2 separate regions of the Homo sapiens genome follow, and region 2 is linked to region 1. A link means that fine-mapping ties the variant in region 1 to the expression of a gene that starts in the linked region. Tissue or cell type: whole blood. Region 1 holds a variant in brackets; the other region holds the start of a gene. All regions are shown on one strand. Distances are between the middles of the regions.

Region 1 (5,000 bases):
CCCTCATTTGAAAGGGACGCACACTGCACCCCCACTCTGCCTCACGCTGTTTGCTGTGTTGATGGAATGGGACAGAAGGGAGGCCTTGGCACGTTTGTTACCGAGCCAGTTGATTAAAGGGGGCTCTGAAGGAAGGGATCAAATGCCTTAAAAGTGAGAAGTCCCCACCCAGACCATCACCATGACACTGCCTTCTAGGTGTGAGAGAGCACTGTAAACCCCTCTGGGCTGGACCTGGAGTGTTTCCATGCATTCTCTGTGTTTCCGTTTCAGCGTGGGATCGAAGGGACAGTACCTTATGTCACAACGGATTACAATTTTAAACTTCCTGGAGCATCAGAGAAAATTGGAGCAAGAGAACCTGAGGAGGCACATAAAGAGAAACCATACCGAAGACCTAAGTTCTGTCGAAAAATGAAGTGATGCTCGCGTTTTTAATAAGGGAAGAAACTTTCCTACCAGAAAGCTTTGTCTCAAGCCTGACCACAAGAGACATGATGGAGTTTCATGGCCATGAATGGTGCCCTTATTAGCAACAGTGTTTTTTGTGTAATTCGTGAATGTCATATAGTAGTCTTAAGTTTCTCTTTTAAAGCTGCATGAGCTAGAATTTGTTCTAGTCTTCTGTGTGATACTCATACTTGCTGTCCAGAGGGAGTAAAACAGCAGAGAACAGTTTGTGTGCCATTAAAACAGAGATTCCTCAGAAAGTTCTTCAGGGACCTGGTTATTAGAATCAGGATAAAAATAAGGAAACTGGGGCCATTACAATGTACCGAGAAGGAAGGAAGAAGGCCGACCTGCAGGATCTCAAGCATAATGGATACAAGGGCTCGCCACGGGCCTTGCCTGAGCCATGTGCAGAGCTGGGGTCCAGCGGTCTGCTTCCTTGGAGCCAGTGTGGATGGTTACAGCCCATCCATTTGGTGCAGTTGTACTTGGTCTGTTATATTCAATCAAGGTTTAATAGATAGGGCTGGGCATGGTGGCTCATGCACACCTGTAATCCTAGCACTTTGGGAGGCTGAGGCGGGAGGATTGCTTGAGCCTCGGAGTTCCAGGCTGGAGTACACCAACTACTCCAGCCTGAGCGACAGAGTAAGACCTTATCTTTTAAAAAAGAAAAGAAAAATTTAAACGGGTTTGATAGATATAAATTTGGACCCAAGAGCCCTTCCTTTTTTTTAATCCTGAGGTTTTATGCTGAGGAAATTTCTTTCAAATCTGGAAAACCTCGGGGCCAGGCGCAGTGGCTCACGCCTGTAATTCCAGCACTTTGGGAGGCCAAGGCAGGCGGTTCACGAGGTCAGGAGATTGAGACCATCCTGGCTAACACAGTGAAACTCCGTCTCTACTAAAAATACAAAAAACTAGCTGGGCGTGGTGGTGGGCGCCTATAGTCCCAGCTACTCAGGAGGCTGAGGCAGGAGAATGGCATGAACCCAGGAGGCGGAGCTTGCAGTGAGCCGAGGTCACGCCACTGCACTCCAGCCTGGGCAACAAGAGCAAGACTCCATCTCAAAAAAAAAAAATAATAATCTGGAAAACCTCTTCTGGGGGCTCTTATAAAAGTAGATTTGTCCAAATTGACTTCTGATCTGAGGCCAGAGACAACCACAGGGCAGAGCTGGAGACTGGGCTGTTTTGAAGGAAGAAGGACTGGCAGACCAGCTCTTGGGAAAGCTCCATTATTGCCTGTGGGAGGCTGGACCTGAACTTGCACCTATGAACAACCCTGCCATTTAGAGCTTTTTCCTGGGGGTGCCGGCGGCTGGTGACCAGACTGCCATTCTCCACGTTCTCCCTGGTGCTTCCGACTCTGTCCTCTAGGTTGGAAGTGGTTTGTGTAAACGGGTGATGGGACCAGGTCACATCATTTCTGCATTTAAGACAGCAGGATACTTCCTGGGGCTGAGGTTCAAACTGGTATTGTGACCACCGCTTTGACAGAATTCCATCTTCCCAGCATGATCACATTGTAAGACTATTAGGATGTGTGGGTTTTAACACTTATATACACTTATACAACTGTTGGTTATCATTGTCTTTAGTATTTTACAGTGGCCCCTCAGCACCTCTTAGACCCAACAGCAAAGGACTTAAAATAAGCACAGGAAACCTTGCTATGGTGATTAGTTTTGATACCTTTGAGACAATTGAGTCTAGCTTCTTAGTTGCCCCTTATTTATGTTGAAATCTGGCTCATTCATATGATGTTTTACTGTGCTGGCCTTGTAAAGAATTTTAAGACAATCCATCACCATCAATGTTTTGCCTTTCTCCACTTTCGTGTATCTTACAGTTATACTCACTGGAGGTCATTTGCAGCAAGGCTCTGGAAGAATGAAACTGGTGCCCTGTAATTGCATTTGCATTCAATCTAGGTTTGCCTTCAGGCTTTAAATGCGGCCTGTATGAAGGTCAAGTCTTTTTCTTCAGTCCCTATCAGTAAAGAAAAATCGTTGCCTCTAGAGGGAGCTATCAGCTGTGGGTCAGGTGGCCGTACTGGGGCTAGAGTTGGCCCAGGAAGCTGTACAGGGTTTAGGGAAGGAGGTTCGGAGACAGGGAGCCAAGGCCTCTGTCAGGTCTAGCTTGTGCCGGTCAGACCTGCAGCAGCACCATTCTCCAGGATGACAATTCATCCCATTATTGATGGCAGTGGCCTTTTTATCCTTTTTTTTTTTTTTTTTTTTTTTTGAGATGGAGTTTCGCTCTTGTTGCCCAGGCTGGAGTGCAGTGGCGCAATCTGGGCTCACTGCCACCTCCGCCTCCCGGGTTCAAGTGATTCTCTTGCCTCAACCTCCCGAGTAGCTGGGATTACAGGCATGCGCCACCATGCCTGGCTGATTTTCTATTTTTAGTAGAGAAGGGGTTTCACCATGTTGGCCAGGCTGGTTTTGAACTCCTGTCCTCAGGTGATCCACCTGCCTTGGCCTCCCAAAGTGTTGGGATTACAGGCATGAGCCA[C/AC]CGCACCCGGCTGGTGGCAGTGGCTTTAAGGGCATTTAGAAGAAGGACAAGATTGGACTTTTTATCATTTCCACAGTCTGTTATGGGTCAGATTAGGTAGTAAGGAGTTCTCCATTGGAGCTATTCTTTTTTTTTTTTCTTTTTTTTTGAGACAGAGTCTCGCTCTGTCACCCAGGCTGGGGTGCAGTGGCACGACCTTGGCTCACTACAGCCTCTCCCCTCCCGGGTTCAAGTGATTCTTCTGCCCCAGCCTCCCAAGTAGCTGGGATTACAGGTGAGCGCCACCATGCCTGGCTAATTTTTATATTTTTAGTAGAGATAGGGTTTCACCGTATTGGCTAGGCTGGTCTCGATCTCCTGACCTTGTGATCCGCTTGCCTCGGCCTCCCAAAGTGCTGAAGCAATTTCTTTTTTTTTTTTTTTTTTGAGACAGAGTCTAGCTCTGTCGCCCAGGCTGGGGTGCAGTGGAGTGATCTCGGCTCACTGCAACTTCCGCCTCCCAGGTTTAAGCGATTCTCCTGCCTCAGCCTCCTGAGTAGCTGGGATTACAGGCGTATGCCACCACGCCCAGCTAATTTTTGTATTTTTAGTAGAGACAGGGTTTCACCATGTTGGTCAGGCTGGTCTCGAACTCCTGACCTCGTGATCCGCCCGCCTTGGCCTCCGAAAGTGCTGGGATTACAGGCGTGAGCCACTGCGCCTGGCCTGAAGCTATTCTTTACAAAAGCTCTTAGTTTTTGTTTGTTTGTTTGTTTTTTTCTTTTGCGACGGACTCTCTGTCGCCAAGGCTGGAGTGCAGTGGCCTGATCTCAGGTCACTGCAACCTCTGCCTCCTGGGTTCAAGCGATTCTCCTGCTTCAGCCTCCCAAGTAGCTGGGATTACAGGCGCCTGCCACCACACCCAGCTAATTTTTGTATTTTTAGTAGAGATGGCGTTTCACTTTATTGGTCAGGCTGGTCTCGAACTTCCAACCTCAGGGGATCCGCCTGCCTTGGCCTCCCAAGGTGTTGGGATTACAGGCATAAGACACTGTGCCTGGGCCTCTTAGTAATTTTTGTATGTAATTTTCAAAGTATCCGGGATTACAGGCGCCCGCCACTACACTAGCTAATTTTTTTTGTATTTTTAGTAGAGATGGGGTTTTACTATGTTGGCTAGGCTGGTCTCGAGCTCCTGACCTCGTGATCCGTCCACCTTGGCCTCCCAAAGTGCTGGGATTACAGGCGTGAGCCACCGCGCCCGGCCTAGGTCATTTGTTTTTGGGTTTGGATGGCAAGATCATGGATAAGACAGCAGGCTTTGATTATAGAGCTCTGAGTTCAAATCCTGGCTCTACCACTTGTCAGTGGTGTAACTTGGAGGAAGATGCTTAGCCTGAGCCTGTTTTATGTTTTGAAGATTGGGTAATTGTCCTTCCTTCAGTGTTCCTGGGTGAGGAGTAAGTGAAGTCATGTCTATAAGAGATGTAGCACAGTCTCCGGCATGTAGAAACGGTCAGTAACTCCTAGTGTGTAGCTAGCCTCTGATGAGATGGTAAACTCAGGAGGCTGGCACCACGGCTGTGCTACTCACGGTCATGCTGGAGGGATGCAGAAACTAAATGAATCCACAGCTACTTACTCATCTTGCCTCTGGCAGGTTCACCTTAAAATTGTTGCTACCAAGCTTCCTGTGGTCAAAGAGCCCTTGAGGAAGCAAGCTCCACGGCCACCATAGATAACCCATTCCTGAAAGTTTTTCATAAACCCCCACTTGTTGCTTTTAAAATTTTATAAGCAGCTTACACATGTAGAAAATGATCCTCCAGCCCACCACCACATAGTAATCACTGACACTGTGAGGTGTCTCAGCTGGGGTTCTGCTGTGTGTGTGTGTATTTTACAAAATATGTATGGTTTCTGTTCAGCTCTTTTCAGTTAACAGATGAACTTTTGTATCATTAAATATTTTTGAAAACATGAATTTAGTTGTGTAATTTTATGTAGATAGGTCATTTTATTCCAGGTAATCACTTAAATGCTTAGAAGAAACT
Region 2 (5,510 bases), 58 kb after region 1:
GGGTCCGGTGGACGGCCGCTCCTGCTCCATGGACTCTGCCTACGGCACCCTCTCCCCAACCTCCTTACAAGACTTTGTGGCCCCAGGCCCAATGGCAGAGCTAGTGCCTCGGGCCCCAGAGTCCCCACGAGTTCCTTCCCCTCCACCCTCGCCCCGTCTCCGCCGCCGCACCCCTGTCCAGCTGTTGAGCTGCCCGCCCCACCTGCTCAAGTCTAAGTCCGAGGCCAGCCTCCTCCAGCTGCTGGCAGGGGCTGGCACCCATGGGACACCCTCTGCCCCCAGCCGCAGCCTGTCAGAGCTCTGCCTGGCTGTTCCAGCCCCAGGTATTAGGACTCAGGGCTCCCCTCAGGAAGCTGGGCCCAGCTGGGATTGCCGAGGGGCCCCTAGCCCTGGCAGCGGTCCTGGGCTAGTCGGCTGCCTGGCCGGGGAACCTGCAGGCTCCCACAGGAAGAGGTGTGGAGACCTGCCCTCGGGGGCCTCTCCCAGGGTCCAGCCTGAGCCCCCACCAGGGGTCTCTGCCCAGCACAGGAAGCTGACCCTGGCCCAGCTCTACCGAATCAGGACCACCCTGCTGCTTAACTCCACGCTCACTGCCTCGTGAGTGGCCTGGACTGGGGTAGGGCAGGTGGCTCAGGGCACTGGCATGGGGGCCCACTCATGCCTGGGAGCATCGCATTTGGGGAGGGTCATGGCGGAGGGAGCCTGAACCCTGCCCAGTGTCTGGGCGCAGGGGGCTGTGGTGGGCAGCAGTGAAGGGGCCTGAGGAGTGCCGTGGGGAAGAGAGGGTGACCAGAGCCACTCTGAATGGCGTCAGCCAAAGAAGGACTCTGTCCCCTCCCCACCCTGTAGGGAGGTCTGAGCAGAGGGAGGCCCCCAAGAGTGCCATTGACCAAGAGACAGCAGACAGCCTGCCTCCTGGGGCGTGCCGGCACCTGCTTCAGCTACTGCCTCCTGTATGCATGAGCCGGATGCTGGGCAGGATCCCTGCCTACGCCCGGGCCCGATTTGCGCTTTGCCGGACTGGATGGAGTGGAGGAGGCCCAGGCCACAGTACCACCCCACCTGCCCAGGCAGCCCCTCGTCACCTACTCCCCGAAGTTACCAGCTCAGCTCGAGTCTTCAGGGCTGGGCTCCTAGGCTGCCCATCCTACTTCTACCCTCACTGGCCTCCAGTGGGATTCACTCCTGCCCTGCCCCCACCTTCCCAGTCCCACAGGCCACCCCTGGCTTGGGCTGGGTTCTGTGAAGTTACGTATTTATTGAGCTTTTGGTTCTTTTATAAAGACTTGTCTAGACTCCACTGGGAAGAGTCCTTTGCTTTGGGGCCCAGTGACTCGGGGCACTTGAGTTCAGGGCGGCCTCCTTGTGTTCCTGTGCTCCTCCACTTGCCACGGATGGGCCACGGATGGAGCTTGCCATGGGAAGCACTGGGAAGTAATGGGGTGTGGGGTGCCACCAGACCAACACCCCCAGACTTCCCCACCTTCAGCCACCATCAGAGCCTCTCCCCAGGTGCCCCCCGGGGATTCAGGGCTGAATCTGCCCAGTTCCCACACTCAGGCCAGCCCTCTTGGGAAGGTGGGTCCTCCATGGGGGTCCCTTCAGGAACTTTTTTTTTTTTTTTAATACAGAGTCTCACTCTGTCACCTAGGTTGGAGTGCAGTGGTGTGATGTCGGCTCACTGCAACCTCTGCCTCCCGGGTTCAAACGATTCTCCTGCCCCAGCCACTCTAGTAGCTGGAACTGCAGGTGTGCACCACCACGCCGGGCTAGTTTTTGTATTTTAAGTAGAGACGGCATTTCACCATATTGGTCAGGCTGGTCTCGAACTCCTGACCCCAAGTGTTCCGCCCGCCTCTGCCTCCCATAGTGCTAGAATTACAGGCCTGAGCTACTGCGCTTGGCCCCTTGCGGTACTTTTGGCCCAACCTCCTCCATGGCTGGGGACGCGGAGGCCGAGAGAGAAGTCACTTGCCCTGGCTCTACCTTGAAGTGGTTCTCAGGGTTGGGGCGAGAGTCGGGGTGGGGACCGAGATGCAGCTCTATCCTGTGCCCCTGGTCGCAGCAGGCAGCCCAGCGCTTCGCGTGTTCTACTTGGCCTGTCCGCTGCCGCCTAATGAGCTCAGGTCTAGGCCGAGCAGAGGGGGCACCTGGTCGGACTCGGTTGGGCTCGGGCGGCCCCGCCTCCCCCCGCCCGCCAGGCGGGCCCTTCTCGACGGCGCGGGGCGGGCCCTGCGGGCGCGGGGCTGAAGGCGGAACCACGACGGGCAGAGAGCACGGAGCCGGGAAGCCCCTGGGCGCCCGTCGGAGGGCTATGGAGCAGCGGCCGCGGGGCTGCGCGGCGGTGGCGGCGGTGAGTTGAGACGCAGGAGGCTAGGGGCAGCTTTGAGCCCTGTCCCAAGAGCCTCGGTGAAGGAAGGGGCCCCGGGCGCGTCTCCACTCCAAGCCTCACTGGGGGCTGGGTTGGCCGCCCTTTCCGATCTCGTTAAAGGCTCCTCCAGGGCGTAGCCCTTCCACTGAGAGGAAACCCCTCCCAGGAGGGTCTGGGGGCCCCAGGCAGAGCATTATCAGTGTCCCTCCCCCAACAGAAAGCATGGGTGGGGGTGGGGGCGCTGCTGGATTCCTGCTCTGGTGGAGGGGAAACTTGTGAGGGGCTGGTAAGCGCCCCCTCCGAAGCCTGGTGTGTGCGCGGGGGGAAGGAAGTTAGTTTCCTCTCCACCCATGGGCACCCCTTCTGCCCGGGGCCTGGGAAGTGGGCTGCTCTGTGGGCAAATGCTGGGGCCTCTGAAATGGAGGAGACGCAGCAGGGAGAGGCCCCACGTGGGCAGCTGCGCTGAGAGTCAGCAGCACCTGTCCCCCAGGCGCTCCTCCTGGTGCTGCTGGGGGCCCGGGCCCAGGGCGGCACTCGTAGCCCCAGGTGTGACTGTGCCGGTGACTTCCACAAGAAGATTGGTCTGTTTTGTTGCAGAGGCTGCCCAGCGGGTAAGTGGCCACAGGGGTGGGAGAGGCATGGGGCAGGCAGGGCTGGAGAGGTGGCGGGCAGGCCCGGGAGGTAAGAGGAGGCTGGCAGGGGAGGTAGGGGTAGGCTGACAGAGAAGTAGGGAGCTGGAGAGAAAGAGGGAGGGAGGGCAGGGTGGGAAGCAGGTCGGGGGTTGCTGGGCAGCCCCTCTGCCTGCCTGACCCCTGCCTGGTTCCACAGGGCACTACCTGAAGGCCCCTTGCACGGAGCCCTGCGGCAACTCCACCTGCCTTGTGTGTCCCCAAGACACCTTCTTGGCCTGGGAGAACCACCATAATTCTGAATGTGCCCGCTGCCAGGCCTGTGATGAGCAGGGTGAGGGGCTTCTCAGTGCTTGGCAGGGAGTTCCTAAGGACAGGCCTTTCTGAAGGAAGTGGCTGGCTCGGGCCCAAACTTGGGGTGTGAGGGTCCTGCACCCACCCTTGCCAGAACCCTCCACCCTGATCCTCCTTCAGGGTGCCCTTGCCCCTTCTCTCTTCCTGGTGACCTTCCCATCTCTCCATGTGCCTTGGCCTCTGGTCGGCCTTAATCTCTGAGCTTCTCTCTTTTTTAGGGTAGCCCTGTACCTGTCTGTCTTTCGCCTATTTCTGTCTCCATTATCTTGGGATAATGCCTCTGCCTCTCCATGGGAGCCTTTGGCCCTGACTAACTCTCCACTCCCCATCTCCCTGCACCCCCACCAGCCTCCCAGGTGGCGCTGGAGAACTGTTCAGCAGTGGCCGACACCCGCTGTGGCTGTAAGCCAGGCTGGTTTGTGGAGTGCCAGGTCAGCCAATGTGTCAGCAGTTCACCCTTCTACTGCCAACCATGCCTAGACTGCGGGGCCCTGCACCGCCACACACGGCTACTCTGTGAGTACCCCCACCCAGGGCTCTCTACTCCCAGACCCCCTTCTCCCTGCCTGACCCACTCCTGTCCCATGGTGACGCATGCCTCTCCTGGATTGCAGGTTCCCGCAGAGATACTGACTGTGGGACCTGCCTGCCTGGCTTCTATGAACATGGCGATGGCTGCGTGTCCTGCCCCACGTAATTCCTAGCTGTCGTGGGATGGAGGGAAGGGCGGCTGGGAGCAGAGCAGGGGCCTGGGGTGGGGCAGGTGCTGCTGGTTCAGGAATAGGAAGAGGGGATAGGGAGGAGGGAGCCTTGGCCCTGTGATGGGTGGGCCCCACTTCAGGCAAACTTAGATGGCAAAAGAGCAATCTGGATCCGCCTTAGCCAGATACATAAGGGTATTTGCCTTCACTTTCAGCCAGCATTCCCCCCAGCGATCCTAGCCAGATATTACAGATGATTTGTCACTTACACAGAGAGTCACATTGATATAGCTTTAAAACTTGGGCTGAAGGAGGTTGAGGCTGCAGTGAGCTATGATCGTGCCACTGCACTTCAGCCTGGGCAACAGAGCGAGACCTATTAAATAAATAAATAAATATTAAATCTATTAAATATTAAATATTAAATCTATTAAATAAATAAATACAAAGGGCTGAGAGTCAGGACTGTGCTGCTAGTTCTCTAGGGGATCTTGGGCAAGTGCAGAGAATTCGCGTCTCTGATGTGTGGTGTCCCTTTCTCAACATGGGATGTTAGCAGCTAATTCACAGGCCTTTGATCAGAGGTAAGGGACTTTCTGTAGCTATTCAAGTCTTTTTTTTTTTTTTTTTTTTTTTTTTTTGAGATGGAGACTTGCTCTGTCACCCAGGCTGGAGTGCAGTGGCACGATCTTGGCTCACTACAACCTCTGCTGCCTGGGTTCAAGTGATTCTCCTGCCTCAGCCTCCCAAGTAGCTGGGACTACAGGAGCCCACCACCACCCCCGGCTAATTTTTTGTATTTTTAGTAGAGACGGGGTTTCACCGTGTTAGCCAAGATGGTCTTGATCACCTGACCTCGTGATCCACCCGCCTTGGCCTCCCAAAGTGCTGGGATTACAGGCATGAGCCACCGCGCCCGGCCTCCATTCAAGTCTTTATTGAATATCTGCTATGTTCTACACACTGTTCTAGGTGCTGGGGATGCAACAGGGGACAAAATAGGCAAAATCCCTGTCCTTTTGGGGTTGACATTCTAGTGACTCTTCATGTAGTCTAGAAGAAGCTCAGTGAATAGTGTCTGTGGTTGTTACCAGGGACACAATGACAGGAACATTCTTGGGTAGAGTGAGAGGCCTGGGGAGGGAAGGGTCTCTAGGATGGAGCAGATGCTGGGCAGTCTTAGGGAGCCCCTCCTGGCATGCACCCCCTCATCCCTCAGGCCACCCCCGTCCCTTGCAGGAGCACCCTGGGGAGCTGTCCAGAGCGCTGTGCCGCTGTCTGTGGCTGGAGGCAGAGTAGGTGGTGTGCTGGGAATGCGAGTGGGAGAACTGGGATGGACCGAGGGGAGGCGGGTGAGGAGGGGGGCAACCACCCAACACCCACCAGCTGCTTTCAGTGTTCTGGGTCCAGGTGCTCCTGGCTGGCCTTGTGGTCCCCCTCCTGCTTGGGGCCACC

Evidence for each region. PIP is the estimated chance that this variant, and not a neighbour inherited with it, causes the effect.
Region 2: TNFRSF25 starts here. The variant in region 1 is the best candidate, but not a certain one, in a credible set for the expression of TNFRSF25 in whole blood (INTERVAL, PIP 0.89).

What each region holds. Positions count from the first base shown.
Region 1 is chr1:6,521,277-6,526,276 of GRCh38, reverse strand. NOL9 (nucleolar protein 9) reads left to right here. Exons shown (of 12, transcript NM_024654.5): 12 at 274-4,930. The coding sequence ends at 423. Among named protein-coding and RNA genes, the nearest start is that of NOL9, 31 kb to the left of the region's middle. The variant C/AC (reference allele first, on the strand shown) is at 2,968.
Region 2 is chr1:6,462,912-6,468,421 of GRCh38, reverse strand. It overlaps TNFRSF25 (TNF receptor superfamily member 25), which reads left to right and starts at 2,249. Exons shown (of 10, transcript NM_003790.3): 1 at 2,249-2,353; 2 at 2,862-2,982; 3 at 3,200-3,334; 4 at 3,703-3,870; 5 at 3,969-4,047; 6 at 5,295-5,350; 7 at 5,452-5,510. The coding sequence starts at 2,315. It overlaps PLEKHG5 (pleckstrin homology and RhoGEF domain containing G5), which reads left to right. Exons shown (of 21, transcript NM_020631.6): 20 at 1-597; 21 at 850-1,300. The coding sequence ends at 859. RefSeq lists an enhancer at 1,480-2,428.